Linked DNA regions of Homo sapiens: all the other regions are linked to region 3. Evidence: fine-mapped expression QTL. A gene starts in region 3. Each other region holds a variant in brackets. All regions are shown on one strand. Distances are between the middles of the regions.

Region 1 (5,000 bases), 190 kb before region 3:
TATTCTTCTTTGAAAGCTTCTATATCTTTATGAAAAAGCTCAACCTATAAAAGGAACACAAAATATTAAAACTAAAGGGACCTACCTGCATGAGATATTTAAGCAAATAGAAGACACACTGCCAAAACTCTTCTATAAGATCCAGACTCAACATTGCTTATGATTGCCTCAGAAGGGAAAGTAACATCTCTATCTATAGGACAGTTCTGTCTGCCACTGACAAACCAACAAGCATTATCTTCTATATTTCTATCCAAACCATTAAAAGACACTAAGCTTTTCTCCATGTGACTATAAATCTTATCCCAAAATGACATTAATCCATACCATCAACACTCTCTTGGGTATATTTGTTTCTTTAAACATAATCATACAGTCAACTTGTATTTTGTAGTCTACTTGTAATTGCTTTAATGCATCCTACACAGATCAGTAATATAATAAAATAAAGAAGGTGTTGAAAACAATTTTGCATTAATTGATTGGTGGTTTCATTCTTGATATTCATCAATACTTCTCCTTTAAATGCTCAGACGGAAGTAACTTCTATGTGTTGAAAAATGAGCCCCAAGATTCACATTTTAACATATTCATAAAAACATAAGAAATGATAGCCTTATAAAAAGTATATTTAGAAATCAATTTCTGAAATGACAGTGGGAAGCTCTTCAAACCAGCACCCCAGCTAAACTGATAAAATTTAAACAACAACAACAACAAATTTAAGGCCTCTAGGAATGGTTTTAAGGTCATAAGCAAATGAAGAAACATCTATTTAAGAAAACCTAAAGAATTTGGTAAGAAAAGCGAATCCGTGGTGTTTTAACAAAGGCCATTCCCTCTGTCCCCTCTCCCAGACTAATGAGCCAGAATTCTACTCTAGACTAGTATACCCAAGAACACAGAGCTCCTTCTTGGCCCAGTCCTCAATTGGAGGACTTCCTTCCTGGGAAGAACAGGACGTCAGCATTTCTCATCCTGTTCCCAGCTACCTGCTGCTGAGGTTAAGTTATGGTTGAGTGCAACTGTGAGGCGGGGGCTTCCTTTATGGGTTTTTTTTTGTTTGTTTGTTTTTTTCGAGACGGAGTCTCGCTCTGGTCACCTAGGCTGGAGTGCAGTGGCGCGATCTCGGCTCACTGCAACTTGTGCCTCCTGGGTTCAAGCAATTCTCCTGCCTCAGCCTCCTGAGTAGCTGGGATTACAGGCACCTGCCAACACGCCTGGCTAATTTTTGTATTTTTAGTAGAGATGGGGTTTCACTATGTTGCCAGGGTGGTCTCGAACTCCTGACCTCAAGTGATCTACCCACCTTGGCCTCCCAAAGTGCTGGGATTACAGGCGTGAGCCACCGTACTTGGCAGGGCTTCCTTTCTCTGTCCAGCCTCTGTGCAGGGTAAAAAAGCTCTGCCTTGGGTACAGTACCACTGAGAATACTAGAGTTCTGATCACTCTTGCCCAGGCCTGTAATGTGGTGGTTCCATGCCAGCAAAGGCAAGCTGAGATCATCTCAGGCCACTGCCCCTCTTACCCCACCACACATAGTGCTCAGCTCCTAAACTGGGGTGTTACTCAAATAGAAGGGTGTCACAACTGTTCCCACCGCCAGCTTCAGAGGCCTGGTTTAGGGATTTTTGCTGATGGGGAAAGTAGGTTTTAAAACAGGTAACTATTAATCTCTTCCCAAAGGAACTAATTTCACTTATAACATATAGTGCAGTTCGAGCCTAAGGGCTCTCAGAAACAGCAGATGTGGTGAAAGACAACTAAAAGGAAAGTCATTGATTTACAGAAGATACTGGCTAACCTGTAGACCTAATAGTTTGCAGGAGAAAATCAGAGAAAGTGACAAATAGGAGTTTTCCTGAGGTCAGAACAAAAAAACACAGAAACATGGTGAAACCCTGTCTCTACTAAAATTACAAAAATTAGCTGGGCATTTTGGCACACGCCTGTAATCCCAGCTACTCGGGAGGGAGGCTGAAAAACGAGAATTGCACAAACCCACGAGGCGGAGGTTGTAGTGAGCTGAGATTGCTTTTGCAGCATTGCACTCCAGCCTGGGAGACAGAGCGAGCCTAGGTCTCAAAAAAAAAAAAAAATAAAAAAAAAAAAATTAATGTAATAAAACATATCAGTAGAACAAAACCCAAAAAGTGTACAATCATTTCCATAGATGCAGAAAAAGAATGACAAAATATATAATCATGATTAAAAACACTCAACCAACTAAGAAAAGAACTTCCTCAACCTGAAAAAGGATGTCTAGGAAAAACCCAGGGTCAATATCATACTCAAAGACTGAAAATTTACCCTCCAAGATCAGAGGCAAAAGAAGAATGTCTGCTCTTGGCACTTCTGTTTAATGTGTCACCAATTTCTAGACACAACAACTAGGGAAGAAGAAGAAACAAAGGCATTCAGATCAGAAAGAATGAAGTAAAACTACCTCTCCTCTCAGATGACACGATCTTATGTATA[G/C]AAATCCCAAAAGAATATACGGAACAACAAATAGAGCTAACAATTCAGTAGGGGTGCAAAATACAAGATCAGTATAAAAAAATCAACTGCATTTTTATACAGTAGCAATGAACAATCCAAAAATGGAATTAAAAAATCAATTTTATTCATAATACTATAAGAAGAATATAATACATAGGAATAAATTTAATGAAAAATGTGTAAAACTTACACTCTGAAAAACAACAAAACATTGTTAAAAAAAATTAAAAATCTACATAAATGGATAAACATGTCATGTGCAAGGACTGAAAGACCTAATACTGTTAGGATGGCAATACTTCCCAAATTGATTTACAGATTCAATGCAGTCTCTATCAGATGTCCAGCTGACTTCTTTGAAGAACCTGACAAGTTGATTCTAAAATTCATATGAAATTTCAAAGGACTCAGAACAGCCAAACCCATCTTGAAAAAGAAGGACAAAGTAGGAAGATACATATGTCCCAATTTCAAAACTTAATACAAAACAATAACTAAGACAGTGTGCAATGCACAAGGGCAGATGCACAGATCGACGGAATAAAATCACATGTGTGTTGTTAACTGATTTTCAACTAGGGTGTCAAGACCATTCAAAGAACAAATAGTCTTTTAAAGAAATGGTAATAGGACAACTGGATAGCAACATGCCAAAGAATAATTTGGATCCTTATACATCATATACAAAAATGAACTAAAAATTGATCAAAGACCTAATCATAAGAGCTAGATCTTTAAAATTCGTAAAACGTAAGATATTCATGACCTTGGATTTGGCTAAGGATTCTTAGAAATGACACCAAAAGCATGAGCAACAAAATAAAAAATAATTTGAACTTCATTAACTTTAACTTTTGATTTTCAATAGACAACATCAAGAAAGTGAAAAAGCAACACACAGAATGAGAGAAAATATTTGAAAATTATGTATCTGATAAGAGACCTGTATCGAGAATATGCAAATAACTTTTATAAGAAAAAAGACAAATAACTCATTAAATAATAAGCAAAGGATCTGAATGGACATTTCTTCACATAAGATATGCAAATTAACTACTTAACATATTAAAGGATAATCAACATATCAAAGATGCTCAACATCATTAGTCATCAGGTAATTACATGTCAAAACCACAATGACAAACTATTTCACATTCACCCATTATGATTGCTAGAATCAAAGACAGATAGTAACAAGTGTTGGGGATAATATGGAAAAATCAGAGCCCTCATATGCTCTGGTAAGAATGTAAAATGGTGGAGGCACTTTGCACAACTGCCTAACAGTCCCAAATGATTAAATATAAGGTTACTATGTGATTGAGCAATTCCACTTCTAATAAAATTTTATTTCTTTTGGCTATATACCTAGGATTGGAATTGCTTAATCACATGGTGATTAAGTTTAAATAGTTTAAGACTTTTAATAAAGTTTTTGTCCAATAAAAACTTGTACACCAGTATTCATTACATTATCCATAAAAGCCAAAATGTGTAAACAACCCAAACGTCCATTAACAGATATATGGATAAACAAAATGTGGCCCATCCATATAATGGAATATCACTTAACCATAAAAAGGAATGAAGTACTGATACATGCTACAACATAGATGCACCTTGAAAGCATTATTCTAAGTCAAAGAAGCCCTTCACAAAAGACTACACAGTGTATGATTCTATTTGTATGAAATATTCAGAATAGGCAAACCTAAAGACACAAAGTGTATCAGTGGCTGCACAGGCAGTTCCTTTTGGGGATGATGAAAATGTTCCGGAATTAGAGAGTGATGATGATTGTACAACTTTGTGAATACATTAAAAGTCATTGAACCCTATCTTTTAAATGGGTGAAATGTATGGTATGTGATCTATACCTCAATAGACTGTTACTAATTTGCTCTTTCTCCATCCATGAATCTATGAGGGCAAGTGAAAAACAGACTATATCTGACCCACTTTATAACTATGATTTTATGGTCTTCCAGTCACCCAGATGATACCACCTTTTAATTTTCCTATCCTTTCTCCCATTAAATATCCTGGACATACCCTAAATTTCTAAATTATTAAAGTGAAAGCAAAGCCAAAGTAATCCAGGAAAATAAAAGAGGAAAAAAGTGATGTGAACATGACAAATTATCCTTTTCTCCCTGCTATTCACCCCAAGCCTTTCCTCCTGTTTGCTAATTTTCTATCATCAGAAAATAAGATTTCTAAAAAGGTATGTACCACAAGAGAGTAATAAAATTTATTTAATTGTATTTTTAAAATGCAACAAAGTCATTTTAATACCTTTAAAAATTTATAATAATATCTTTTCCCTAATCCTTTCCATCAAATGTTATTATTTTAAGTCTTACCTCTGTATTTTCAGTCACCTCAGCTTCTGTCATAAGGTCTGTTAAAGCATAGATAAACCCAAGATCTAACCTGAGATCCATTTCTTGAATCAATACTTTGAAATACCTGTATTACAAAGTAGAAAACATTTTTTAAAA
Region 2 (5,496 bases), 34 kb before region 3:
TTTTTAGTAGAGACAGGGTTTTAACATGTTGGCTATGCTGGTCTTGAACTCTTGACCTCAAGTGATCCACCCGCCTCGGCCTCCCAAAGTGCTGGGATTACAGGTGTGAGCCACCACGCCTAGCCATATTCATGCCAATATGTCTTTATCCTAAAAAATCCTATTATCTGCAAAAGAAAAATGTTTAAAAGCAATTTTAAAAACCAATTCAAACTTAGAACTTAGCTATGGCAAAATATTAAAGTAGTTAAACAACATCTCACCAAACTAATCTTATAAAAGAATGTTCTAGGAGCTATTTAGATTTGCAGGTATCATTGGGTGCAGTGGCTCACACCTGTAATCCCAACACTTTGGAAGGCTGAGTTGGGAGGATTGCTTGAGGCCAGGAGTTTGAGACAAATTTGGGCAACAAAAAGTGAGACCTTGTCTCTACAAAAAAATTTAAAAATTAGCTGGGCATGGTGGCGTGTGCCTATAGTCCTCGCTACTCAAGAGGCTGAGGCAGGAAGGATGATTGCTTGAGCCCAAGAGTTAGAAGCTGCAGTGAGCTATAATCGTGCCACTGCATTTCAGCCTGGGCAACAGAGCAAGACCTTGTCTCAAAAAAAAAAAAAAAAAGATATGGGGGTATGTATTCATGTTTGTGTATAGTTACACACATCTTCACCTGTATCTGTAAATTCTGCTAATAGATTGTGCCTAGGAAAAAATACTGACTACAGTATATTAGATAAATGACAATGAATTAAACCTCATGCAAAATATGATACCAACAAATACATACAGAAAAAATTTACTTACCAAGGAGTTATCATAATCACTAAGATAAAACATCTGAGACTTCACATTCCAATAGGCAAACAGGTTATCCAATCGGATTAACTGAAAATAAAATTTATTAGATGTCTCATTTTCTTTGAAGAATTTTTATCATACACTATTTTCAGAAGTCTCAAATAATTAAGTGAGCCATATCACAGAGTTAAACAAATAAGCAAAATTCACATACATCCTTATCTATATATTATCATTTGGCTTTCCAAAATTCTCTTAAGTCCATGAGTTGACAAACACAGTATTTATTTACCTTACGAACCAGTTTCTCAGTTTCATCATGTAAACATGGAACCCAGTATTGATCAGTTGTCTGAAAAGGAAAAAAAACAATGGCAGTAAAAAGGTCATTCCATTTGAAACAGCAGAGTAATAAATCATTATCTACCATACCCTAGACCAATGTCCCTTTCATGAAAATGCCTTTAAAGACATATCACTCCATCAAAAAATACTAACTGACCACAGTAAAGTGTCTGCTTTCAAGGAAGGAGCTCATTGCGGGTCAGAAAAGCAAACAAAGAAACAGGCAACTTCCAACAGGTAAGTGCCACAGCAGAAGTTAAATACTCATTTAACTTCTAAAACTCATAACTCATTTAACTTATAAAAGAATGTTCTAGGAGCTATTTAGATTTGCAGGTATCATTGGGTGCAGTGGCTCACACCTGTAATCCCAACACTTTGGAAGGCTGAGTTGGGAGGATTGCTTGAGGCCAGGAGTTTGAGACAAATTTGGGCAACAAAAAGTGAGACCTTGTCTCTACAAAAAAAATGCCCTCTCATTTCATTGAGAGGGCATGGCAGGAGCATCCAATTCAGGGGTGTGATGGATAAAGAGATGTTATATATAACCTAATATATAACATGTAACTAAAAATTATTGATTCTAAGGTCGACAGGGAATATGATTCACAACAGGCAGAGCCCAAAAGTACACAAATATATGGCACATTCAGGCAACTGAAGTAGCTCAGTATGCAGGAGAATATAATGCAAAACAGACAGAGAAAAAAAGTAAAACCAGGTATATTGCCTGGGGTCGGTTTAAAAAGGGTTTATAAGTTGTTTAAGGATAAAACTAAGAGCAATGAAAAGCCACTGAGAGGAATAAAGTGATCAGATCTTTATTTCAGAAAGATGGTTTTCGTTTCTATGTGGAGACGAACTGAATGGATAATTAGAATAGTAGCTCTCAAAGTTTAGCATGCATTAGGATCACCTAGAGCAGTGGTCCCCAACCTTTTTGGCACCAACGACCAGTTTCATAGGAGATAACTTTTCCATCAGGGGCACAACCTAGATCCCTGAGATGCGCAGTTCACAATAAGGTTCGCTAGGATCCTACGAGAATCGAATGCCACCTCTGATCTGACAGAGCTCAGGCGGTAATGCTCACTCCCAGGCCTTACCTCCTGTTCTGTGGCCCAGGAACCCTGACCTAGAGGGCTTTGTAAAACACAGATTGCTGCAACCAAATCCTAGAGTTTCTAACTGAACAGGTCTAGGCTGGCAGACAAGTTTCCAAAGGTGATGATTAGTAACTACTGTTATCACGGTTACCAAAGATCTTCACATTGCCCAATCCAATGGCTAATTCTCCATTCTTATTTTTCAACTTAATGAGAGTATTTGAGTAACTTTTTGGAGGGCATTTTTTCTTTTTTCGTTGCAGTGGGGCCACATTTTAAAAAGAAACTGTGGAGTCTCTCTGAGCCTGCTCTGGCTTGGGAGGCTGCCCAATTTAAAAATAATAATAAAATTAAAAAGAAATCTTACACAAAACCCAATAGATACAACAAATAAAATCATGCAATGAAATACACAGCAGTTAAACTGAATGAATTTTGTTACATGTGGTAACACAGATAAATGTCAACAACACTGGAAAGTGCAAAAAGGAACTCATAAAAGAGTCATATAAAACGCGTAAACTTTTATAATCCTACATTTTTAATAGATATATTATATAAAAGTTTTAAAATTTAGGATACTTATCTCTGGGGAAGGACGGGTGGGTGGAAGTAGAAAACAAAAGGGATTCAAACTTTATCCAAAACAGCTTATTCCTATAAAAATATTTAAGACTTTAAGCAAATAGGCTATTTTAATAGGCTCTTAATTTAACAGCCATCCATTCTGGAGGCAAGCATATG[T/G]TTCAAAATTCTCTACATGTTCTTATATTTTTAAAATTCCTCAATTTCAAAAATTAAACAGGAAAACACTATGCTACAATATTAATAATGATATTGAGAAAAACTGAAGATTTTTGTTTTTCAAGGCTTATCGAAGTTTCAGATATGAACATTTATTACTTGTATTTGGTACTTACTCATTACAAACTTGGAAATGGATTTCTTAAAGTAAGCAAAAGCATCTAACATCATAATTACCAATAATAATAGGACCTCATATTTCTGAATTTGATTTTCAACCATTTTTTGAAATGTGAATCTACATACCCTCGATTCCAATCCAATGAAGACCCTTTGTGCACCCGTTCTACATAGACACCTATTTCTGATGCTGGCATATACAAATAGTAGCAGTTTAATAGACTATATTGCACATTAAATATGGTTAAGATTCTTTTATAAACAAAATACCTGCATGCTCAGATTTTGAAGGGAAATACCAAATGACAGCGGTTTGTCCCGATTTGTGATCTAAAGAGGAAAGAAAGTAAAATTTATTCAGATTTTTAGTAGTTGGATAAAATCCACTTTATAGAAAAAACTGTCAATGTGCAGCGGCTCCCATCTGTAATCCCAGCACTCTGGAAGGCCAAGGCAGGAGGACTGCTTGAGCTCTGGAGACCAGCCTGGGTAACACAGTGAGATCCTGCCTCTACAAAAAAAAATGTTAAGAAAATTAGCCAGGCCTGGTGGGGTGCAACTGTAGTCCCAGCTACTGCAGGGTGGGTGGGTGGGGGTGAGGTGGGAGGATCACTTGAGCAAGGAATGTCAAGGTTGCAATGAGTCATGATCGGGCAACTGCACTCCAGCCTGGCGACAGTGTGAGGCCTTGTCTTGGGAAGGGGAGGCAAGGGGAGGGGAGGGGAGAGAAGAGGAGAAGAGAAAGAAAGAGAGAAAGAGAAAGAGAGAGAGAGAGAGAGAGAGAGGGAGGTGGGGGGAGGAAGGGAGGGAGGGATAACTTTTTGGGAAGTAACTTATTTCAAACATTCAGAAACATTTTATTACTTTCCAGAAAAACTTTCATTCCTATATTTTTCCTAAAACAAATTAGAATACTAATTATTAATGTATTCGTGTTACACAGGAATATTATACTGCATGTTTTCCAGTTTACAAAAAAAATTATTAAAAAAGACTAACAAAATAGGATTATAAAGCAAATAATTATCTGGTTAAGAGAAAACAAATGACCTATTCAGGATCAAGGAATTATTTAAGGCTAGCTCCACTAATTGCTAGACCAGTACTCCATCCAGGAGGTAAATATAGCATACTTTAAAGTATTTTAAAAATACATAACTGCTAAATTCATAATTCCCAAGGCATTTCCTTCATGATCTAATGTCTGAACATTTTGGGAAAGTGTAAAATCAAGCACTCAACACTAAGGACTGCAAATTACAACTATAATTATAGAAAAGAAGGATCACATCATCTTTAGCTCTGTAACCTTTTGGGATTTAACAGATTGGCCATTAAAAAGTAGGTGTCATTAAATAGTAAAATAACTTACATATAAATATAAAAACAAATATCACATATTAAAATACTTACATCATCTTCATAACGAATATGGATACTGGAAATTTTCACCTGAAGATTTTTTATGATCTGTGTAACTAATTTTTCTGCAAAAGTGTCCTGTTTTTCCGGCAGATGTTGTTCTACAATTGCAAATATTCCTTTTTTAAAATTGAATGAAAAATATACTCTATAAATATCCACATACTGAAGTAACATGCTTACGTTGCCTTGCTGAAATATACATATATATGTAAATAGAACACTAATAGCTTGCTTTCCAAAAGTCTTTCAAAAGCAAGTAAACATTTTTCAAAAGCTAGTTTATTGTGCCATGAGACTAAAGCAGACCATGTAGAATTTACTGGCATTAAATTTTATAATTTCTGTTAACCTATGCCTGAGTACAAAAATATATTTAAAAATGAAGATTATTGGGTAAGAATTACAATAGACTTAAATGAGAAAATCCACTAACAGCAGCAAAGCAGAAATCTCTCTCAAAATTAGTGATACCACCATTAAGTTGCCTGTGTATAGATGTGTAAAACAGTTGAATATCCTCCTCCCCCAGTAAATACAAAATAGGAAATAAGATCTTCTTTCTTCTTTTGAACAAGGATGAAAGAAGTTCATCAACTATTTCATGTTCAGAAAACAGCATTAACTATCTCAAGTTCCATTACTTTCCAAAGAAATAGAAAGAATCAAGAATTGGAGGGGCAAGGTGGCTCACACCTGTAATCCCAGCACTCTGGGAGGCCAAGGTGGGCAGATCATCTGAGGTCAGGAGTTTTAGACCAACCTGGCCACTATGGCGAAACCCCGTCTCTATTAAAAATATAAAAATTAGGCAGGTATGGTGGTCCATGCCTGTAGTCCCAGCTACTTGGGAGGCTGAGGCAGGAGAATCGTTTGAACCAGAGAGGTGGAGGCTGCAGTG
Region 3 (5,496 bases):
TGGGTTGGGAAAAGATTTCTTAGATATGAATACCAAAAGCCATGATTCATAAAAGAAATGTTTTATAAACTGGGCTTTTCCCAAAATCAAAAATGTATGCTCTGCAAAAGACAAAATGGGAAAAGACTGAGAAAGTATTTTCAAATTACATATCTGATGAAGAAATTGTATCCTTAATATTTAAAGAACTCTCAAAACTCAACCATAAGAAAACAAACACTCTGGAAAAAGAGTTTGGCTGTTCCTCAAAAGGTTACACAAAGTCAGCATATGACCCAGCAATTCCACTTCTAGGTATATATCCAAGAGAATTTAAAACATACATCCACAAAAAAACTTGTACATGAATGTTCAGTGGCATTATTCATAATATCCAAAAGGTGGATGTTTAGGAATAATCTAAACATCCAGCAACTGGTGAGTATAGATAAATAAATTGTGGTCTATGAATATAATGGAATATTATTCAACCCTAAGAGCAAATGAAATAGTCATACATCCTTCAACATGGAGGAACCTTGAAAATACATTAGGTTAAAGAAGCCAGAAACAAAAGGCCACATATCATATAATTCCATTTAAATGAAATGTCCAGAATTACCAAATCCATAAAGACAGAAAGATTAGTGGTTGCCAGAGGTGGAGTAGTGAGAAGGGAGGAAATTGGGAGTCACTCCTAATGGACATACGATTTAATTTTGGGGTGCTGAAATATTCCGGAATGAGAGAGTGGTGATGGTTGTACAATTTTGTGACTATACTAAAAAACACTGAATTGTACATTTTAAAAGAGTGAAATTTATGGTATATGAAATAAATCTCAAAAAAAAAAAAAAAACGTACAACCCAATTTAAAACCACTCTTAGGTATTTATCCAAGAGAAATAACAATTATGTTCACACAAACACCCGTACGTGAATGTTTATGACGGCTTTATTTATAACCTCCAAAAACTGAAATATTCTTCAACCAGCAAACAGATAAATACTTACAGTCAGGCGGGCGCAGTGGCTCACGCCTGTAATCCCAGCACTTTGGGAGGCAGAGGCAGGCGGATTACTTGAGGTCAGGAGTTTGAGACCAGCCTGGCCAACATTGCAAAACCCCCTCTCTACTAAAAATTAGCCGGGCGTGGTGGCGGGGTGAGATCAACTGCAAAGGAGCAGCTGAGAGAATTCGGGAGGCTTGATGAACCTTTTATGTGCCATTATTGTGGTGGTGCATACATGCCTCTTAGCATTTGTCAAGACAGAACTGTATCACAAGAGTGAATTTTACTGCATGTAAATTTTAAACAAATAAATAAGTTGATTAATCACACTCTAGACAAACCTCCACCCTGAATGTGGAAGCAAGACTCCACTACAGATCAAAGTTCACCTCAAGTATTCTTAAGGCTTCCTTCTGAGGTACATGGGAGACAAATTTTATTTTCACTTTGCAACTAAGAAGCAGCATAAACAGACTGCAAGTTTCTTGTACTAATCAAACAGGCTGAGCAGCTATCACTATATCCCTAGCTTTTGTAGTCCACTCACTCTCCATCATGATACTAGGTCCCCACGGTAGTAACATTCTTTAAAATCAAACTAAACTACCTGTTTACATTATCTCATAAACGAGAAGAGTCAAGGTAAGTATTTTAGAAGAAGACTGGAAGTGTGTGCACAGACAAGAATAAATTACTTTAAATATATATTTAAACACACACACTTCACACACAAAATTAACCCTCACTTTGGCCTGGGAAATTCATTTCACAAAGGAGTCTAATTTCTAGCGGGTGTTTAAAATAAACAAGCGCATAATGCAAAAACAGATGGAAACACTAAAAATGAGGCTCTCACTAAGGCAGAATACCACACTAAACGGACACAAGGAAAGCTCGGTCCTTCACCACCTAGGCAGCGTAGGGCCCTGTTCAGCCCGGTCTTTTGCAGGTCTGAGACGTTGCACCGCACGCCCTGGTTTTTCTTTAAAATTCGGCAATTCACTCTGACCCACATATCCTAAAGTCTTGAAAATGTTACACATTCCTAGGTCAGGCTGTTAACTGCAACCACACAAGCAACTGTTTGAGTTACTTTGCACTTGAGTTTCCTTTTTGTTATCCGCCGAACCCAGGCGAGAGAGAGCCGGCGTCCGGGTCCTAGGGCCGGAAGGGGGAGAGCAGAAAGCACCACGGGTGAAGCCAGGAATTGAGGCTGGGGAAGCAAGGAAGCGGGCGTCCCCGGTCACAGCGCCCTGCCTTCACGTGCGAGGCAGCATGCAACACGCGGGGGATTTCTGGGGCCTTCGTCATAAACCCAGGGGGGCAAAGGACAGGGATGGGACCCAGCCCAGGAAGGCGTCGTCTCGCCTCCTCGCCCCGCGCGGCTAAAGCCGGACCGTGCGGGGCCAGGGGTAGAGAACGGCCCCTCGCCGGGACTTGAACGCCAGACCCACGGAGCCCACGGCAAGTCCGCTCCGCTCGGAAAATATAGACCTTTTCATCCCGCACTCATGACCCTCTCCTTTCCCCCAAAATATAAACAACTCGAGGGCGGAGGCCAGGGAACTGCCGCCCGGCTTTACGTAACTTGACCCACAGGCGGGCGGCGGCAGGTGGCTGCACCCGGCGAGCAAGGTGCTCGAAGCCCCGAGAACGCAGGACGCCGCTCGGGCAGCGAGACGGCCGGGAAGCACGAGAGGCCGGGGAGCGGCGGCGGCGGCCTCCTTACCTTTCCAGATGCCCAGAGAGAGCTGGGACGTGTCCAAGTCCACCACATAGTCCCCCAAGAACCGGTTCAACACGTCCACGACCACCGACTCGAAAACCATGTTCCTCAGCCGTGGTGGGCACGGCAGCCGGCCCGTGCGCTCCTCCTCCCGCCGCCTTCCCCACGCCCCTCCCTCGAGGTAATTCGGTTCACCGGCTCCGGGGCGGCTTCAGCTGCGGCGCCCCCGCTGGCCCAACGCGCAGCCCTAGCGAGCCCAGCGAGAGACGGAGGCGGTCGCTCTCACGACGCGTGCGCAAGTCTGCGCGCGGCTGGAGGCGGAGCGCGGCGCAGACCTGGGCGCGCAGCCCTGAGAGGGAGGAAAGGCGGCTGCGCGGCCGCGGCTCTGGAGGGTGCCCTTTTCGCGCCGAGCCCGGCTCCTCTTTCCTGTCGGCCCCGCCTCCTCCCCATCGCCTGGCAACGGGACACCGGTCTGGAGCTACCGGATTTTTTCCGACCCCGCCCCCTCCTGCAGATCAGCGTCCCCAGCGGCCCCCCAGGGCGGGGCGGTTACGCCCGACGGGAACGCCCCTCCCCCTAGAAGGTGGTGGCCGCTTCCACGCGTATGACAGGGCTCGCCCCTGAGTAAGGGTGGGCGGATCCCAGCCCCGTCGCCAGAAGCTTCAAGGGGGCTGTCCCAGGGAGCATCTCCCCTCATCATTACAGGGTGGGAGGGTCCAGCCAGCCTGGGTGTCTTGGTGCCTGTAACCTCCCCGCCTGGTCCTCCGACCGCCTGGCTCTCAGGAGGAGTTAACTTCCTGCTGCGAGTCGAGGATGGAGTTACATAGTCCCTGCCCTGCATCTGAGATGAGCACCCATTTTTGGTCAAGTCATTTATACGGAGCTGTCTTTCATTCCAAAGAGTAACACGCTTCCCTGCAGATAAGAGTTGGAGTCAGCCGGTCTGGAAACTGCTGAACACCCTCCAAGAAATACTGGGAGTGCTGGACCCTTGACCCCTATGCCTCCACCGAACCACTGACCTAAAATAAATTACAATTACAGATCTTTCGACCTGTTTGGTCTTACTTAGAAGTAATCCCAAAGGCCTGAGGTCACAGAGATGCTAAATGTGAGGTTTAGAGAACTGTAATTAATCATCTGCAGGACCGAAAAAGTGTACATTGAGCGTTTTCTCTTTACACGTTAAATGAATAATGATGGATTTCTATTAATTCCTGTGTCATTTTACTACTTTTTGTGCATAGTCACCGACTTTTCAAAATTAAATGTTTAGGGTGTGCCTTTGCAAGTAGAATGCCTGACAAAAACTGTAAGTTTTTACCTGAGTTTATGAATGTTTTTCATATAATTTTATATTTGAAGGACCTTTATGAGGTCTCCAACCTCCTAGTCTTAAATATAATGAAGCTGAAGTGTTAGGGATGTGTGCAAGGTCATACAACCAATGTTCTGTGGAAGAACTGGAACTTGGCCCTTCTGATTGGCTACCACCCCACCTGCTTCTCTCTCATTCAGCTAACAGTCTGCTTCAGAATACCTGCACGGAGAAACGAATAGAGGCTAAAATGCCTAGGAAGGGGAAGAGCTCTACATAATGAGGCATTTTGCCATTGCACTATTAATAAGAAGCCAGATACACAGTAGCTGCAAAATTCCGCTGTTATATCTAGCGCTGCAAATTCAAAGTTACAAGAATTTCCAGAACTCCAAAAATCCATCTTAAGTATCTTGCAAACGTTTTCATATTAGTTTTCTACGATCTAGGAAAATTTTGTGGAAGTGAGGAAGGGGAAGGGATGTTGCTGAAAAGTTAGAGGTATAAGCATAAAGCAATGAAAAAAAATTCTGCTGAGGAAGAGTTAGAAATAAGTGGATGCATATTGTAACCGAATTCTTATCTAGTGTTAGATGTATATGAACATGCTTTGTAAATACTAAAAGACAACATTTTGCATTCAGTCTTTGCATTGCTTAATCCATCTAAGGAAGTTTGTAAGCAAAAATATATTAACATCATCATGTAAAAGGTATGCTCATTAAACCATTAAACCAAATTTCTGTTGTACCTTGAAAAATAAGCCCAATGACTACCATAAAAACTCGAGTTTCAAATTAGGAAGTATGTCAGTGTATGTTATTCTTTCTCTAGATCACAATTAAAATGCTATACTTCATTGTTTGATCAAATGGAAAAACAAAAGAGGGGGAGAGCATCTGAATGACCCCAAACTGCAATATCATCTAACTTTACAATAAATCTCTAACTTTGCAAGTAGGACTTGCAGTTTTATGTATACCTTCCATGCCACAGCTCTTCGTCTTTAAAGTTTTGGTGTACTGGTAGTAATCTTGGAATTTTTTTTTCTCCTAATCTTAATTCTTTTGTCCACAAGTAAATGTCATTGGTGGGCTGCTTGTCCTTATCATTCCCCATGGGCATTGTGGTAGCAGGCTAGATGGCCAGATAACAAAGCTGTTGAAGCAGACCACAAAGCTGTTGAAGCAGAAGATGTCCTGGAGGAACAAGTGTAGAAGATGGCCGTTTTATAGGTATGGGACTTTTACTGATCTAACTTCACAGAGCCCTGTGCTCCATCTGTTTATGCTTTAAAAATTTTAAACAATAAAAAGTTATTTGGAGCCTGGCATGGTAGCACATGCCTGTAGTCCCAGCTACTCCAAGGGTGAGAGGATCCCTTGAGCCCAGGAGTTTGGGGCTGCAGTAAACTATGATGGTGCCACTGCATTCCAGCCTGGGTGACACAGTGAAAAAAA
Region 4 (5,496 bases), 200 kb before region 3:
AGAGCTTTGATTAAAAAAAAAAAAACAAAACCCACCACCATCAAAACAACAATCCACTTTTTATACCTGTAAGAAAAAAATGCTAACTGCAACATCCCAAGGTACTTGGTGAATCCCTACAAATATTTCAGCTAATACTGTGTAAATGCTTGCTGAAAAACAAGTAATGGCTGACAAGTGCTGTGGTTTTTAGTCATTTAAATAGCTCTTTTAGTGATTAATGATGAGACTGACCTATTAAAAATAAATATGTATCTTTAAAAGTACACAGTCAAAAGTCATGTTTTTACATCTCAAAGTTTAAAGCTTCAGAAAACAATGAGAAGCTTCACTAAAATCAAATTATCAACCATGAGAAATTATTGGTATCTCATGGCTTCCTTGTGGGTATCATAACGTGCTCACTTATAATGAGGATATATTCCTAAACTCTCCTCAACACTCATCCTTACTTCGTACTATATTTGATTTTTAGTCTAGTAAAATGTTAGTAACTTGTTAAATGCGTTCTAACAAGGGAAGGCAGGTATTGGGTAGAAATACATGTTTTGACTGTATCAGCCATGGGTGACTTCTGCAAATTTACTATCTTCCAAAGAACGATACACTGTCATTGTAGAGACTGCACAATCTGTCCATTAGAGCACAACCTCTTAATAGATTACCAGTTCTATCCCAATATACAATGATTTTGATGCTTCAAAAACATTTTAAATACAGTATAAAATCACTTAACTAAATATTGCATATTAACTCTATGGTTACATTTTTGTATATTAGAAGCCTCAGAGAAAGAGTTAGAAGTATATTTTATGCAATACTATATGCCCTGCAATAGGTAAAATACTGAAGTTTAAATCTTTACTCTGATCACATTAAATATCACAATATTTAAAATATTAAAGCCATAAAGGAAGCTTCATATTCCAACAGTTTATTGCTACCATGAGTATCTGCAAGCCTACATAACATAATGATTCCTTGTTTGTTTTCAAACAAATGATTTAATTTAGTATTCCACCTCTAAACCACAGAAACAACATGACACTGGTATAGCCTATATATGATTACTAGTTACCTACAGCATAATCCAGGTTTTAAAAAGTCGAATTTACCAAGTAAGAAAGTTGTCTAAGCAGATTCTAACTTCAAACTGTCTATTGTTCCAGATGCTACTTTGTATTATTAAAAGATACTGGTTTGCATGTGAACTGCTTATCAAATCCCACAAGTTTTATAAAGACTACACTAGAATAAAGCAGGAAGAGGGTCATGGCCATTTAAGCATTTTCAAAGGCAAAGCACAAGAATCCAAGAGTAATTCACAATAGCAGTGTTCCTGAGTTTTGCTTTTCCTTCTTCATGTGTAATTGGATATAAGGATTATATATCTGGTATAAAAGCTACCAGTGGTTTAATAACCCCACAACAGAAATGGTTTAATTGGTTAAGTAAGTACCACCAATGACGAGGATACATAAGGTACAAAGGCTTCCAACAAATCTAGCAAATCCAGTGCAGAACTAAGAACACCCTATAAAAAAACCAGATTCATTAAAATTCCTATTAAAAGTTACCAATACAAAAGGTTTTCTTTGTATTCAAAATACTGAAACAGCTGTACGTAGTTTGTAAATTTTAAGACTAAAATCTACTGTTGGCTTTCACTTGCAAAGTCATGCATTAACTTTTCATATCAAACTTTTTGATGCCTGTAAAAAAGAAAAAAAAATCTTATAGTAAATAAATGTACTTTAAAATCTAAGTAAATATAAGAAACTTATAAGTGGAATTAAGCAAAATAGATAAAAGCCCAAATAATTTAATATATATTAAATGGCTACTTAAAAAAAATCTAACTTGACTAAATTAATCTTAATTTATAAGATAGCTCTTAATTTACCTGTAACATTTGATTTCCAGTCCCATCCCTCAACCTGTACGGTCTGATAACTCCATCTTCATTGAAGAACCGAGGAGGTCGCAGACTCTCCACTTCAGAAGTCTCTGTAGCTCTAGAGGAAAAAAAATATAACTTTATTTTAAAAATTATTCAAAAACTTGTAAATAAACTATAAAATGCAATTACTAAAAACAATCTTATTTCAGATTAAAAATATTACAACATTCTCTAATTTTAAATTGTTTTTGTAACATAAACAGTGTAAGTTCTCTAGAAAAATACAGAACTATAGAGAAGTTTAAGTCTCTAGAACTTTCTTTGTGATAATAATCACAATATTAGCAATTGTTGCTTTTTCTTTTCCTATTACGTT[G/A]TCTAGTTTCTTTAGTATAATGCTATAAACAAAAAGGGATTGCAAGCATCCTTGTCTCATTCCTGACCCTACGGAAAGCTTCTAAGAGTTTTCTGTGAAGTATAGTTATCAGCAACTTTTTTTTTTTAAAGCACCCCTTAACAAGTCAAGAAAGTTCATTGCTACTTTTAGTTTACCAACAGTTCTTTTTTGTTACTGTTTTTGAAAATCTTAAATAGGCAATGAATTTTAAATAAGAATTTCTTTTCTGGCATTGTTTTGATCACATGGTATATTTTCCTTAATCTATTAATGTTATAAATCACATTATATAGTTTTCTAATATTCAAATACTCTCACAGTCCTCACATTCTTACTGGGCTTGATGTGTATTACTGTAAACACATACCCCAATCCTGGGCAGCATACACTGCTCTACAAAAAAATAAAAAAACTAGTCAGACATGGTGGTATGCAGCAGAAGTCCCAGACACTCAGAAGGCTGAGGTGGGAGGATAGTTTGAGCCCCATGCCACTGCACTCCAATCAGGATGCCAGAGTGAGACCCTGTCTAAAAACAAACAAAAAACCAAAAAACACATACCACATACGGCTAAATTGTGTATGGTAGTATTATATTTAACATTTTTGCTTATTTGGTCATAAGTGACCACTCAATTTGTTCACTCAACAAGTATCACATATTCAACAAATATTTATTAAGAGGTCCCCAACCCATGGGACTTGAACCAGTACCGGTCCATAGCCTGTTAGGAACTGAGTCGTGCAGCAGGAGGTGAGTAGTGGCAAGCAAGTTTCACTGCCTGAGCTCCACCTCCTGTCATATCAGCAGCGGCATCAGATTCTCATAAGAAGGCGAACCCTATTGTCAACTGCACATGCAAGGGATCTAGGTAGCACACTCCTTATGAGAATATAACTAAAGCCTGATGATCTGAGGTGGAACAGTTCCATCCTGAAATTATCCCTCCTGTCTGGTCTGTGGAAAAATTGTCTTCCATGAAACCAGACCTTGATGCCTAAAAGGCTGGGGACCGCTAACATAATGTATACACATGCATGGGCATATACATATGAATAAATTCTCCAACTGAAAACAGAATAGGGCCGGGTGTGGTGGCTCATGTCTGTAATCCCAGCACTTTGGGAGCCCGAGGCGGGCGGATCATGAGGTCAGGAGTTCGAGATCAGCCTGGCCAATATGGTGAAACCCTGTCTCTACTAAAAATACAAAAATTAGCCGGGCGTGGTGGCATGTGCATGTAGTCCCAGTACTTGGGAGGCTGAGGCAGAAGAATCACTTGAACCTGGGAGGTGGAGGTTGCAGTGAGCCGAGATCATGCCACTGCACTCCAGCCTGGGCGACACAGCGAGACTCCATCTCAAAAAATAAATACATAAGTAAAAAAATAAAAACAGAATAGATAAAAAAAATATGATCTAACAATATACTATCCACAGGAGACCTGATTTAGAGTCAAAGACACAAACTGGTTGCAACTAAAAAGGAGAAAATATATGCAAAGTGAACAGTAACTAAAAGAAAGCTAAAGTGGCCATGCTAATGTCAGAAAAAAACAGCCTTTAAAAAAATTCTTATTAGACACAAAGAAGGGCATTTTATAAGGAAAAAAGGGTCAATCCATCAAAAAGATAAAAAATTATAAACATATAAGCAGCTAATAAAAGAAGCCCCAAATACACAAAACAAAAACTAAGAATTTAAAAGACAAAAAGGCAATACCACCATAATAGTTGAAGATTTCAGCAACCTACTTTCAAAAATGGATACCAACTAGATAAAAGATCAGCAAGGAAAAAAGAGAACTTGAATAACACTATAATCCACTAGACCCAACAGATGTCTATAGAACGTTCAAACCAACAACAACAGAATATATATTCTTCTCAAGTGCAACGGAACATTATTCAGTATTAGCTATCTATTAGGTCATAAAACATGTCTCAATAATATAAAATTACTGTTTGCTTCTTGGCCTTTTGGCTAACATTGAATGTAAATATAAAACTACTGAAAATAGGCCAGGCGTGGTGGCTCATGCCTGTAATCCCAGCACTTTGCGAGGCCGAGGTGGTCAGATCACTTGAGGTCAGGAGTTCAAGACAAGCCTGGCCAACATGGTGAAACCCCATCTCTACTAAAAATACAAAAATGGCCGGGCGTGGTGGCTCATTCCTGCAATCCCAGCACTTCGGGAGGCCAAGGCGGGCAGATCACCTGAGGTCGGAAGTTCGAGATCAGCCTGACCAACATGGAGAAACCCTGTCTCTACTAAAAATACAAAATTAGCCGGGTGTGGTGGCACATGCCTGTAATCCCAGTTACTAGGGAGGCTGAGGCAGGAGAATAGCTTGAACTTGGGAGGCGGAGGTTGCGGTGAGCTGAGATAGCGCCATTGCACTCCAGCCTGGGCAACAAGAGTGAAACTCTGTCTCAAAAAAAAAAAAAAAAAATTAGCTGGGTATGGTGGTGTGTGCCTGTAATCCCAGCTACTCAGGAGGCTGAGGCAGGGGAATCTCTTGAACCTGGGAGGCAGAGGTTGCAGTGAGCCAAAATCACGCCACTGCTCCAGCCTGGGTGACAAGAGTGAGACTCTATCTCACAAAAAAAAAAAAAAAAAAAAAAAAGGACTGAAAATATACAAGTATGATACCTGACCACATGGAAGAAAACTAGAAATGTGTAAATAAGAGAAATTTATGAAATTTACAAGTGTGTGGAAATTAAAACATAGAAGCATAAATAACAAAATGTCAAAGAAAAAAATCACAAAAGAAATTCACTACTTTGAAACAAATAAAAGCAAAAATACAACACACCAAAACTTATAAGATGCAGCAAAGACAGTGCTCAGAGGGAAATTTATAGATGTGAATGTCTACATTAAAAAAGAAGGTCTGAAATCAATAATATAACTTCACAAGTTGAGAAAGTAGAAAAAGCAAACTAATCCCAAAGCTAGCAGAAGGAAGAAAATAATAAAAATTAGAGCAGAGATAAAAGAAATAGAGAATAGAAAAAATAGAATCAATGAAACTAAAAACTGGTTCTTTGAAAAGGACAACAAAAATGACACGCCATCACTAAACTGACCAAGAAAAAAAAGAAGACCCAAATTATGAATAACAGGAATTAAAGAGGGAACACTACTACCAATCTTATGGAAACAAAAAATAATTATAAGGGAATACTAGGAAT
Region 5 (5,496 bases), 60 kb before region 3:
TGTAATCCCAGCACTTTGGGAGGTCGAGGAGGATAGATCATCTGAGGTCAGGAGTTTGAGACCAGCCTGGCCAACACAGTGAAACCCCATCTCTATTAAAAATTTTTTTAAAAATTAGCCAGGCGTTGTGGTGGGTGCCTGTAATCCCAGCTACTCGGGAGGCTGAGGCAGGAGAATCGCTTGAACCCAGGAGGCAGAGGTTGAAAAAAAAAAAAAATGAACTTCCAACAGAAAGAAAATAAAATCAAATAAAAAGTGTAAGCTATAAGAGAAATGAAGAGCAAAGAAGGTAGTAAATGCACAAGTAATTGTAAACTACCATGAACTATATACATACAGTACAATAAAGTATTTTTAAGTAAAAAAAATAGTATATGGGGATGGTATATAAAGTTCAAGAGTACTAAAGTCCATATAATGACTAGGAGAATATAAAATTTTTCATTAAATTTATATTTTTACAAAAATGTATACTGTAATTTATAAAATAAAAAGAGATAGAGAATATTTAACTTCCCAATAGTAGATTGTAGGGAAGGGGGAAGAAAGGTATCCTAGAATTTATCCAAAGGAAGGCAAGAAAAATAAAACAAGGAAAACCAAATTCAAAAGCACAAAATAGGATGTTAGACATAAGCCTAAATAAATTAATTAAATGCAAAAAGTAGATATAAATAAAAAATAAGGACCATAAATCTAGATTGGAAAAAATCCTATTACATGTTGTTGACATGACACATCTGAAAACACAGGGAAAAAGTAAAAATATAAGAAAAAATATATACCAGGTAAATTCTAACGAAAAGAAACTTTGTACTTCATACTGACATCAGATCAAAAATAAAATAAAATAAAAAAGTACAAAGGGAAAAAAATTAAAGCATTAAAGATGTGGTTTATAGGAGGAAAAATAATTTACTCCTGCATGTACTTAATGACAGTCTTAAAATTTATTTTTTTTTTAATTTTTATTATTATTACTTTTGGTGTGTGTGGCAGGGTGTTGCTCTGTCGCCAGGCTGGTGAAACCTGGTCTCTATTAAAACCCCGTCTCTATTATGATTTTGCCATGTTGGCCAGGCTGGTCTCAAACTCTGACCTCAGGTGATCCACCCGCCTCGGCTTCCCAAAGTGCTGGGATCAAAGGTGTGAGCCACCGCGCCCAGCCAAATTTATTTTTTTAAACAAACTGACAGATCTATTAGAAATAGAAAAATCTACATTGATAATGAGGCATTTTTCATGTATTTCTCTTAATAACTGTTAGAACAAGGTGACAAAAGGGGAAAAAAAAAATCCAGTAAGGATACAAAAAATTTGAAGTAAAGGATTAACAATCCATACCTAATGAATAGGTATAGATATGAAAAGACAGCCTTTTCAGCATATGAGGAACATTTTTTTTAATATCATACATTGAGCTAGAAAACAAGTCCCAACCAATTACAAAGCATTAAAATCATACAGATAATCTCTATGGTCAACTATTTAATTAAAAAGTTCAATCTGTAATCTTAAACTTTCCCACAAAGAAATCTCCAAAACCAAGTGGTTTTACCATTAAGCTCTGCCAAATATTTAAGGAAGAAATCGTACCCGACCTTATTCAAACTCTCCTAGAGAATAAAAAAGGATAGAACTTTTTTCCCTGAGGCTGATATATCAAAATCTGGAACGCATTCTAAGAAAGGAAAACGAGAGGCCAGTTTTTGTCATAAATAGAGGTCCAAGTATCCTAAGCAAAATTTTGCAACTAACTTAAATGTGGTTACTAGGTATGAACTTTCTGAGTGTAAAAAATGATTATGGTTTTATCTGCCTTTAAACATAAAAGTACTAAATTAGTTTCTGTTAAACTAAAACCAGTCTAGAAATATAATAAATTTAAAATAAACTTTACTAAAAACATTCTACCATAAATAAAAGTTTAATATAGGATACAGTATTTAATTCACCAACATTAATATTGGCATTTACCTGTTGCTGTCTTACTGCGAAATTCTTCCAGTTTTGTCAAAGTTGCTGCAGTGAGCTGTGCTAGATGTACCTCTTTTGGAGGTCTGAAGAATTCCACTATACTATTCACTGTCCTCTGTTAAAATAAACATCATTAACACAAACTCAAAGCAAACTAAATTATATTAAAACTTAGTAATTTAAAAAAATGCTTACTGCATCATATATGATTTCTAAAGGTTCAGCTTCTATGATACACCTCTGAGAAACAGTTTCATCTAATGGATTTATCTCAAATGTAATTTGGAAAAGTGACATTGCATCATCCAATGAAGACAGGAGGCGGGGTTTTTCTGAATTATCTGGTAAGCCAGTAATATGAAATGAATCTATTTTAGTTTCAAATCTGCATTAAAAAAAAAAGAAAAAAGTCAGCGATCAGTAAAATTGTGAAGGATTTTAAAAATTGAAAATGATTTAAAAAATTAATGAAGACAACTTCACTTTGCATTTCTGACTCCAGTCCATTCCCATCAAAGAAGACATACAATGATTCCTCTAAATTGACATAGATTAATTCACAAAGAATCCTATTTGTGTTGACTTATATGTAAAAAAGTTATGATAAGCTAAAATTAAAATGACAGTAAATCTACAATGCTTAATGTAAAACTGAAAAGTTTTGCATATTTAACACAAGTCTATAAACATGTTTTCTTCTAAAAATAAAAATAAACATTTAAAGGCCAGACATGTGGCTCACACCCGTAATCCCAGCATTTTGGGAGGTCAAGACAGGTGGATAACTTGAGGTCAAGAGTTCGAGACCAAACTGGCCAACGTGGTGAAACCCTGTCTCAACTAAAAATACAAAAGTT[A/G]GCCAGGTGTGGGGGCATGAGCCTGTAGTCCCAGCTACTCGGGAGGCTGAGGCAGGAAAATCGCTTGAACCAGGGAGGTGGAGGTTGCAGTGAGCCGAGATCATGCCACTGCCCTCCAGCTTGGGTGACAGAGTGAGACTCTGTCTCAAAAAAATAAAACAATTTAATAAACATTTAAAAACCAAGGATGAGGCAGGACTTCGAGAATGACTATGTGAGGAGCTCAGCAACTCTTCTCCCCAGCAAACCAAACAGGGAAAGAACTGGTGAAAATTATAAAATCTCTGGAAATCAATCTAAGGGCATACAGCAAACAGAAAAACTTTTATTCAAAAAAATCTAGGCTGGGCTCGGTGGCTCACGCCTGTAATCCCAGCACTTTGGGAGGCTGAGGCAGGCGGATCACGAGGTCAAGAGATCGAGACCATCCTGGCCAACATGGTGAAACTCTGTCTTTACTAAAAATACAAAAATTAGCTGGGTGTGGTGGTACATGCCTGTAATCCCAGCTACTCGGGAGCCTGAGGCAGGAGAATCTCTGGAACTCAGGAGGTGGAGTGAGCTGAGATTGTGCCACTGCACTCCAGCCTGGCGACAGAGTGGCATTCCATCTCAAAACAAACAAAAAAATCTACTAAAACTTGATAAGAACAGGGAGAGCCTGTGGCATCTGAGCTATGATCATTTCCCACCTCTAATCCCCACACCACGTTACAGAAAATCTACATTAATATGGGCGCAGCTAAGAAGATATCGTCACATGGCATTCTCCTCTTTATGTCTGTCTGCAAATTGTCTTCTCTAGTCTGTCTTATTTTCTGAGTCTGTGTTCAAATTTCTCTTTCCTTTGAAGAGCACACATCATTCAATTAGAGCAAACACTAATACAGCATGAACTCATTTTAACTTGATTACATCTGCAAAGGCTATTTCCAAATAAGGCTATATTTGCAGGTACTGGGAATTAGAAATTGACAATGTTTTGGATGATACAATTCTACCCACTACAGTAGGTAAACAAATGGAAAACTACATCCTTCAACAATCAACAACAACTAACCATGGAGAGGGGGGACATCTAATTTCCACAGTTACCACATTATACCACTCAAAACATCAAGTTTTAAACAAAAATGTACAAAGCTTACACAGAAAAGGGAAGACTAGCATTATGTTCACTAAGCCATCATGTTAAATAAGCTTACACTCAAAGACTAAAGAAAACCAGGAAAATAACATTTGAGCACAGAATATAAATCGACAGAAATTATTAAAAAGAACCAAACAGAAATTTTGAAGGTGAAAAGTACAACAGCCAATATGAAAACTTCACTACAGATGTTCCTTGACTTATAATGGGGTTATGTCCCAATAAAATCATTGTAAGTTGAATATGTCATAAGTTTAAAATGCATTTGACACACCTAGCCTACCAAGCATCATAGCCTAGCCTAGCCTACCCTAAATGTACTCAGAATAGTTATATTAGTCTACGTTGGGAAAAATCATCTAACACAAGGCCTATTTTACAATAAAATGTTAAATAGCTTATGTAATTTATTCAGTACTGTACTGAAAAGTGAAAAACAAAGGTTGTATGGATACTCAAAGTAAGATTTCTACTAAATATGGATCACTTTCGCACCATTCTAAAATCAAAAAAATCATAAGCTGAACAATCATGATTTGGGAACCATCTGCAGAGAGGTTTCACAGAGGATCTAAGCAGCCCAAAGAAAGAATCATCAAACTTGAATACAGGACAACTGAAATTATTGAGTCTGTGGAGCATAAAGAATAATGAAGAACAATGAACAGTGCCTAAAGTGGGAGACCATCAAGTGGAACAACATATGCACTACGGGACTCTCCGAAGGACATGAGAAAAAGAAAAAGACATTAAAAATACTGGGAGAAATAATGGCCAAAAACTTCTCAAATTTGATAAAGAACACAAATTTATACATCCAAGAAGCTCAAAGACCTCCAATTAGGATAAACTCAGAGACTCACACAGCAACATATTATAATCCAACTGTCAAAAGCTAAAACAAGGAAAATCTTGAAAGCAGCAAGAGAGAAGCAACTCATCACATAACAAGATATGTAATAGATTAACAGCTAATTTCTCCTCAGAAACCATGCAGTCCAAAAGGCAGCAAGATCATGTACTTAAAGCACTAAATGAAAAAAAATGTCAACCAAGAAATCTATATATGACAAAACTATCCTTCTAAAATGAAGGAAAAATGAACACATTTCCAGATGAACAAAAACTGAGTCTGTCTGTCATTAGTAGACCTGCCCTACAAGAAAGGTTAAAGGAAGTCCTAAAGACTGCAATGACAGGATATTAGATAGTAATTTGCAGCCATACAAATAAATAAAGAACTGTTGTAATTGTAACTACATAAGCAAATAAGAAAGCCAGTAATATTGCATTTTTGGTTTTTAACTCCTCTTTTTAATTCCTCTATGATTTAAAGACAAACACATAAAAACAAATATAAACCTAGACTAATGAACACAAGTATGTAAAGCAGTAATTTGTGAAAATGATAACGTAAAGATGAAGAATGGAGCTGCATAAGAGTAGAGTTTTTATACACTATTAAAGTTAAGTTAGTGTCAATTCAAATTTGACTGTCTTAAATTTGGACTG
Region 6 (5,496 bases), 62 kb after region 3:
ATATTATAGCTATATTTAAGGTTTATAACATGATAACTTGATATGTGTATACATTTTTGTAATTATTATCACAATCAAATTAATTAACACACCCTCACCCATGCTGTATATTAGGTTCCCAGAACCTGTTCATCTTATAACTGAAAGTTTGTACCCTTTGATCAACATCTTCCCATTTCCCCCACCACCTACTGCCTGGCAACCACTGTTGTACCCTCTGTTTCTGTGTTTGGTTTTTTTAGATTCAACATATAAGTGAGATCACACAGTATTTATCTTTCTGTGTCTGGCTTATTTCACTTAGCATAATGTCCTCTAGGTTTATCCCTGTTGTCACAAAAGGCAAGGCTTTCTTCTTTTTTTTGGCTAAATAATATTCCATTGTGTGTATATGCCACGTTTTCTTCATCCATTCATCCACTGATGAGTGCTTATGTTGTCTCCATATGCTGGCTACTATGAGTAATGTTGCAATGAACATGAGGATGCAGATGTCTCCTTGAGGTACTGACTTCCTTTCCTTTGGATATATACCCAGAAGTGGGGTTGCTGGATCATAAGGTAGTTCTATTTTTAATTTTTTGAGAAACTGCCATACCGTTTTCTATAATGGCTGTACCAATTTACATTCCTGCCAATAGTGTATAAGGGCTCTTTTTCTCTCCAGACCCTCTCCAACACTTATCTCTTTTATATTTGATACTAGCCATCCTAACAGGTGTGAGGTGATAACCTGTTATGGTTTTGATTTGCATTTCCCTGATGATTAGTGATGTCGAGTACCCTTTCATATACCTGTTGGCCGTTTGTATATCTTCTGTGGAAAAATGTCTATTCAAGTCATTTGACCATTTTTAAATTGTGTTATTTGGGTTTTTTTGCTATTGAATTGTGTGCTATCCTGATATATTTATTTTATTTTATTTTATTTTATTTTATTTTATTTTATTTAGATGGAGTTTTGCTCTTGTTGCCCAGGCTGGAATGCAATGGCATGATTTTGGCTCGCTGCATCCTCTGCCTCCTGGGTTCAAGTGATTCTCCTGCCTCAACCTCCCAAGTAGCTGGGATTACAGGCGCCCGCCACCACGACTGGTTAATTTTTGTATTTTTAGTAGAGACGGGGTTTCACCTTGTTGGTCAGGCTGGTCTGGAAGTCCTGACCTCAGGTGATCTGCCCGCCTTGGCCTCCCAAGTGTTGGGATTACAGGCATTAGCCACTGCACCCGGCCTCCTGATATATTTTTTTACATTAACCCCTTGTCAGATATATGGTTTTCAAATATTTTCTCCCATTTGGCAGGTTACCTTTTCATTTTGTTGATTGTTTCCTTTGCCGTGTAAACGCTTTTTAGGTTGATGTCAAATCTACTTTCAATTTTACAAGTTCAAAAATTTTCCCTGAGAGAGACTTAATTAATCATGACATTTAATGTGAGTGTTTGAAAATCATGGACATTTTAGACATGGATAGCCTATAACGATGAAGTTATAGATGCAAAGCACCTGCTTAATGATGAGCTGGTGTACCAGAACAAGCCTGTGGATACAGAACAGACGGGCATTTTTAGAGCACCACAGGTCCAAATTCTGCTGTTGCCAGTAAGTAATATCCTGAGTATTTCATGTGCAAAGGAACATAGGCATTTTTGTTGAGAGGATAGCTAGCTTAATTGACATCACATTGACCTGACACCAGGAATCAGTGTAATATGGGTTTGATAAAAGCAGAACTGCAAGTCAAACTGAATCTTACTTTTGCCTGTATTCAGTTTTAGTACTACATAAAAGAAAAAAAAAGGACCAGGCGTGGTGGCTCACTCCTGTAATCCCAGCACTTTGGGAGGCTGAGGCAGGCGGATCACCTGAGGTCAGGAATTTGAGACCAACCTGGCCAACATGGGGAAACCCTATTTCTACTAAAAATACAAAAATTAGCTAGGCATGGTGACTCAAGCATGTAATCCCAGCTACGTGGGAGGCTGAGGCAGGAGACTCGCTTGAACCCAGAAGGTGGAGGTTGCAGTGAGCAGAGACCATGCCACTGCACTCCAGCCTGAGAGACAGAGCAAGATTCCATCTCAAAAAAAAAAAAAAAAAAGAATTTATAAAAATATAACCTGAAATATTAAAAAGTCCAATAAAGCATTTAAAAAGAGTTCAAATAAATTGCTGTATCAGAAGACAGAAACATCAAAAAATATTGCTATATTTTCTCACACATATTGCTTATTTAATCCTGCTATTAATCACTTCTAACCGCCACTGCTATCTAGGCTTATTGTTGTTTTGTTTAAATAATAGCATTTATTTAACATAAAAGTAAGTAGTACAGAACATATAATTTCAAATAAATACCATTTTTCATATTTTATGTTAAAGTAATAACACATTTGAGTATACTTATTCATTACATATTAGATTATTACATTTGGGTTTTTTTTTT[A/T]AATTCAGTATAGTTGTGTCCACGTTGGCCCTCAAAAAAGTTGGCCACTCTAGTAGCCAGGGTTCTTAGCTGTCAGTTCAGGGCTCCCAAAGTGCATGTCCCAACAGACAAGGATTCAGGGGGAAGCTGGACCTCGTTTTAGGATCTCACCTTGCAAATCACACATCATCACTCCCACCGTATCCTATTCATTAGAAGCTACTAAGTGTGGCCCACAATGAATGGAAGAAGAATTAGACTCCACTTTTTGATGAGGGATATGTCACAGTATAGGTATACTTTAAAACTATTTCGAATAATGAAGAACACAGTGACTCCCATGCACTTTTGCTAGGCAAACTGGTATATACTTTTTGGAGAGGAACTCGGAACTATCAAAATAAAAAACAATTAGGAGTTTAGGGTACGGATATACTTGCAAAACAATGCCAAACACACTAATTAAAACTTCCCCCACCCCTCATTCTGAAAACGTTCAAAACTATAGAAACCTATTGTGGTGGAGTAGAGATGGTCATAAGTTATTTTACACTCTTCTCATTGAGATGTGGGGTCCCTTTTTTTTCTTGGATCTGAACTACTGTGACTTCTTGAGCAATCTAAAATGGCAGAAGATTTTAGATTGCTCTGAAATCTAACTCAGAACTCTGTGACAGTTCTGGACCTAGCTCTCAAGAAGACTGGCTTTTTTAGGGGGTTTCCTGAAGCCCTGAGCCTCCATGTTAAGTTCCACTACCCTGGTGAAGAGGCTGATGAGAGACCCCAAGACTACCCAGAGAGGGAAAGCTCAATCCAGCCATCTCCACCAAAGCACCAGGCATGTTTTGGATTCTCTGAACCAGTTGTCCATCAGCTGTGTGAATAGCCAGTCACCAAGTGACTGTAGGTAATGCCACTTAGAGCAGAACCATCATCCAGTGAAAGTCCTCCCAAATTCCTGATCCATAAAATGGTAAAATATAATGAGTTTTTTTTTAAGCCACTAACCTTTGGGGTAGTTTGGTATGCAGCAACATACAACCACAATGCCTCCATACCCTTATTCATCAGTTGTTAACATTGTGCCACATTTGTGCCTCTGCCCTCTCTGTTGTGCTGAATCATTTGAAAGTAACTTGCTGATATCATGATGCTTCACCTTTAAATTCTTCAGTATGTATTCTTCACAGTCGCAATGCCATTATCACTCCCAAGATACTTAAGATTGACACAATAATATTCTTTTTTTTTCTTTTTTTTTTATGAGACAGGATCTTGCTGTGTCACCCAGGCTGGAATGCAATGCTGCAATTATGGCTCACTACAGCCTCAACTGCCCAGGTTCAAGCGATCCTCCCATCTCCCATCCCAGCCTCTGGAGTAGCTAGGACCACAGGTGCATGCCATCGTTCCCAGATAATTTTTTTTTATAGAGGTGAGGTCTCACTATGTTGCCCAGGCTGGTCTCAAACTCCTGGGTTCAAGTAATCCTCCTCAGCTTCTCAAAGTGTTGAGATTACAGGTGTGAGCCACTGTGCCCAGCAGACACAATAATATTATCCAAAATGTAATTAATATTCAAATTCCACCAATTACTCAAATCATGTATTTGTATAGATTTGTTTTAAAATCCAGAGTACAATCAAGGATTATGCAGAGGATTATTTAGTTGCCATGTTTCTTCAAGCTTGTTGAAATCCAGTACAATAAGCCTCTGGTTTTTTTTTACTTTCATGTTACTGATATTTTTGAGGAGCTCAGAGCAGTTGTCTTGTAGAATGTCACATCATTTAGATTTGTTAAATTATATCCTCACAAAATTATATTAGGGTTAAGTATTTTTAATGTGTTTTTAACTTTTAATTTGTATGGACACATAATAGTTGTATTTAGTTACGGGGTACATATGGTATTTTGATACAATCATACAATGTGTAATGATCAAATACAGGTAATTGAGATATCCATCACCTCAAACATTTATCATTTCTTTGTGTTGGGAACATTCCAAATCTTCTCTTCTAGTTATTTTGAAGTATACAATAAATTATTGTAACTTTAATGACCCTACTGTGCTACTGAACACTAGATCTTATTCCTTCTGCCTAACTAATTTGTATAGGGTTAAGCATTTTTGGTAAGAGAATATTACATGGCTGACAACATAGGTACTTTCCATTGCTTCATAAGAGAGGCACATAGCGTCAGGTTGTCTCATTATTGATAATGTCAAGTTTGATCATTCGATTAAGGTAGTGTGCACAACATTTCTCTGTTGTGAAGACATACATTTTCTCTAAAATTAGTGAGGACCCTGTAGTCTTTCAGACTGTGTGGATATCCCATTTCAAGATGACCTTTCACCACATTGCTTTCAGAATTCGTAGATGATCCTTGCCTGACTCAATCATTATGTAGTGGTGGTATGGTGGTGGTTTGCTAATTCTGTATTTCTTTCTACTTTTGTTAGCTGGCACTTTCTCTAAAGAATTTCTTCACTGTCCATCTCTTCTTTTTGCTTATTATAATAAACTAAAAGATTCATTTTTAAACGACCGGCTTTGATGCTCAAATTGTCCCATATTTGGCCAATTGGTTCCTGTGTTCCCTTGAGTTTTAGTGCACTTCCTTCCTTTCAGGCTTAAGATATTCCAGGTTCCTTCTGTAATTTTCCCACCTCACACCTGGAACTAACCACAAAGAACCCTGGTTCCTTTTTGTGAGAAAGGTATGTAGAAGCCACATTCTGGGCTCTAGGTATGCTAATTGCTCCTGGGACTCAATTTATACTGATACTGCAATTCAAATCCAACATCACAGGGTCCCTCACATTCCTCTATTCCACAAGTGTATCTCCCCTTCCCCACAGCAAGGGACTTGGTTCACCAAAGAACCAATTCATTTACTCATTTGCTCTATCTTACATATACACAGAAAGTTCCAGAATTATTCCACTAAGACAACTAACAACCGAGTCAAGCTTCTTTGTTTGTTTTTTCTGCCCCTAAAATATTCTAAGGATTTTCAACCAGACTTCCATGTATAAAAGTTACTTGAATTAATTCTTCTGT

The links. PIP is the estimated chance that this variant, and not a neighbour inherited with it, causes the effect.
Region 1: its variant is fine-mapped to the expression of VPS13A in whole blood (TOPMed, PIP above 0.99).
Region 2: its variant is fine-mapped to the expression of VPS13A in whole blood (TOPMed, PIP above 0.99).
Region 4: its variant is fine-mapped to the expression of VPS13A in nasal epithelium (TOPMed, PIP 0.96).
Region 5: its variant is fine-mapped to the expression of VPS13A in tibial nerve (GTEx, PIP 0.98).
Region 6: its variant is fine-mapped to the expression of VPS13A in whole blood (TOPMed, PIP 0.97).

The regions. Positions count from the first base shown.
Region 1 is chr9:77,360,504-77,365,503 of GRCh38, reverse strand. It overlaps VPS13A (vacuolar protein sorting 13 homolog A), which reads right to left. Exons shown (of 72, transcript NM_033305.3): 59 at 4,863-4,968; 60 at 1-44. Among named protein-coding and RNA genes, the nearest start is that of GNA14-AS1, 85 kb to the left of the region's middle. The variant G/C (reference allele first, on the strand shown) is at 2,479.
Region 2 is chr9:77,208,623-77,214,118 of GRCh38, reverse strand. VPS13A (vacuolar protein sorting 13 homolog A) reads right to left here. Exons shown (of 72, transcript NM_033305.3): 6 at 4,587-4,696; 7 at 3,444-3,503; 8 at 1,091-1,150; 9 at 805-885. Among named protein-coding and RNA genes, the nearest start is that of VPS13A-AS1, 33 kb to the right of the region's middle. The variant T/G (reference allele first, on the strand shown) is at 2,994.
Region 3 is chr9:77,175,030-77,180,525 of GRCh38, reverse strand. VPS13A (vacuolar protein sorting 13 homolog A) reads right to left here and starts at 2,992. Exons shown (of 72, transcript NM_033305.3): 1 at 2,722-2,992. The coding sequence starts at 2,821. It overlaps VPS13A-AS1 (VPS13A antisense RNA 1), which reads left to right and starts at 2,609. Exons shown (of 2, transcript NR_026668.2): 1 at 2,609-2,899; 2 at 3,620-3,770. RefSeq lists silencers at 1,827-1,996, 2,979-3,273, 3,035-3,364 and an enhancer at 2,979-3,273.
Region 4 is chr9:77,378,495-77,383,990 of GRCh38, reverse strand. It overlaps VPS13A (vacuolar protein sorting 13 homolog A), which reads right to left. Exons shown (of 72, transcript NM_033305.3): 68 at 1,904-2,015. Among named protein-coding and RNA genes, the nearest start is that of GNA14-AS1, 66 kb to the left of the region's middle. The variant G/A (reference allele first, on the strand shown) is at 2,277.
Region 5 is chr9:77,234,868-77,240,363 of GRCh38, reverse strand. VPS13A (vacuolar protein sorting 13 homolog A) reads right to left here. Exons shown (of 72, transcript NM_033305.3): 18 at 2,173-2,362; 19 at 1,978-2,092. Among named protein-coding and RNA genes, the nearest start is that of VPS13A-AS1, 60 kb to the right of the region's middle. The variant A/G (reference allele first, on the strand shown) is at 2,835.
Region 6 is chr9:77,112,804-77,118,299 of GRCh38, reverse strand. No RefSeq gene overlaps it. Among named protein-coding and RNA genes, the nearest start is that of VPS13A, 62 kb to the left of the region's middle. The variant A/T (reference allele first, on the strand shown) is at 2,447.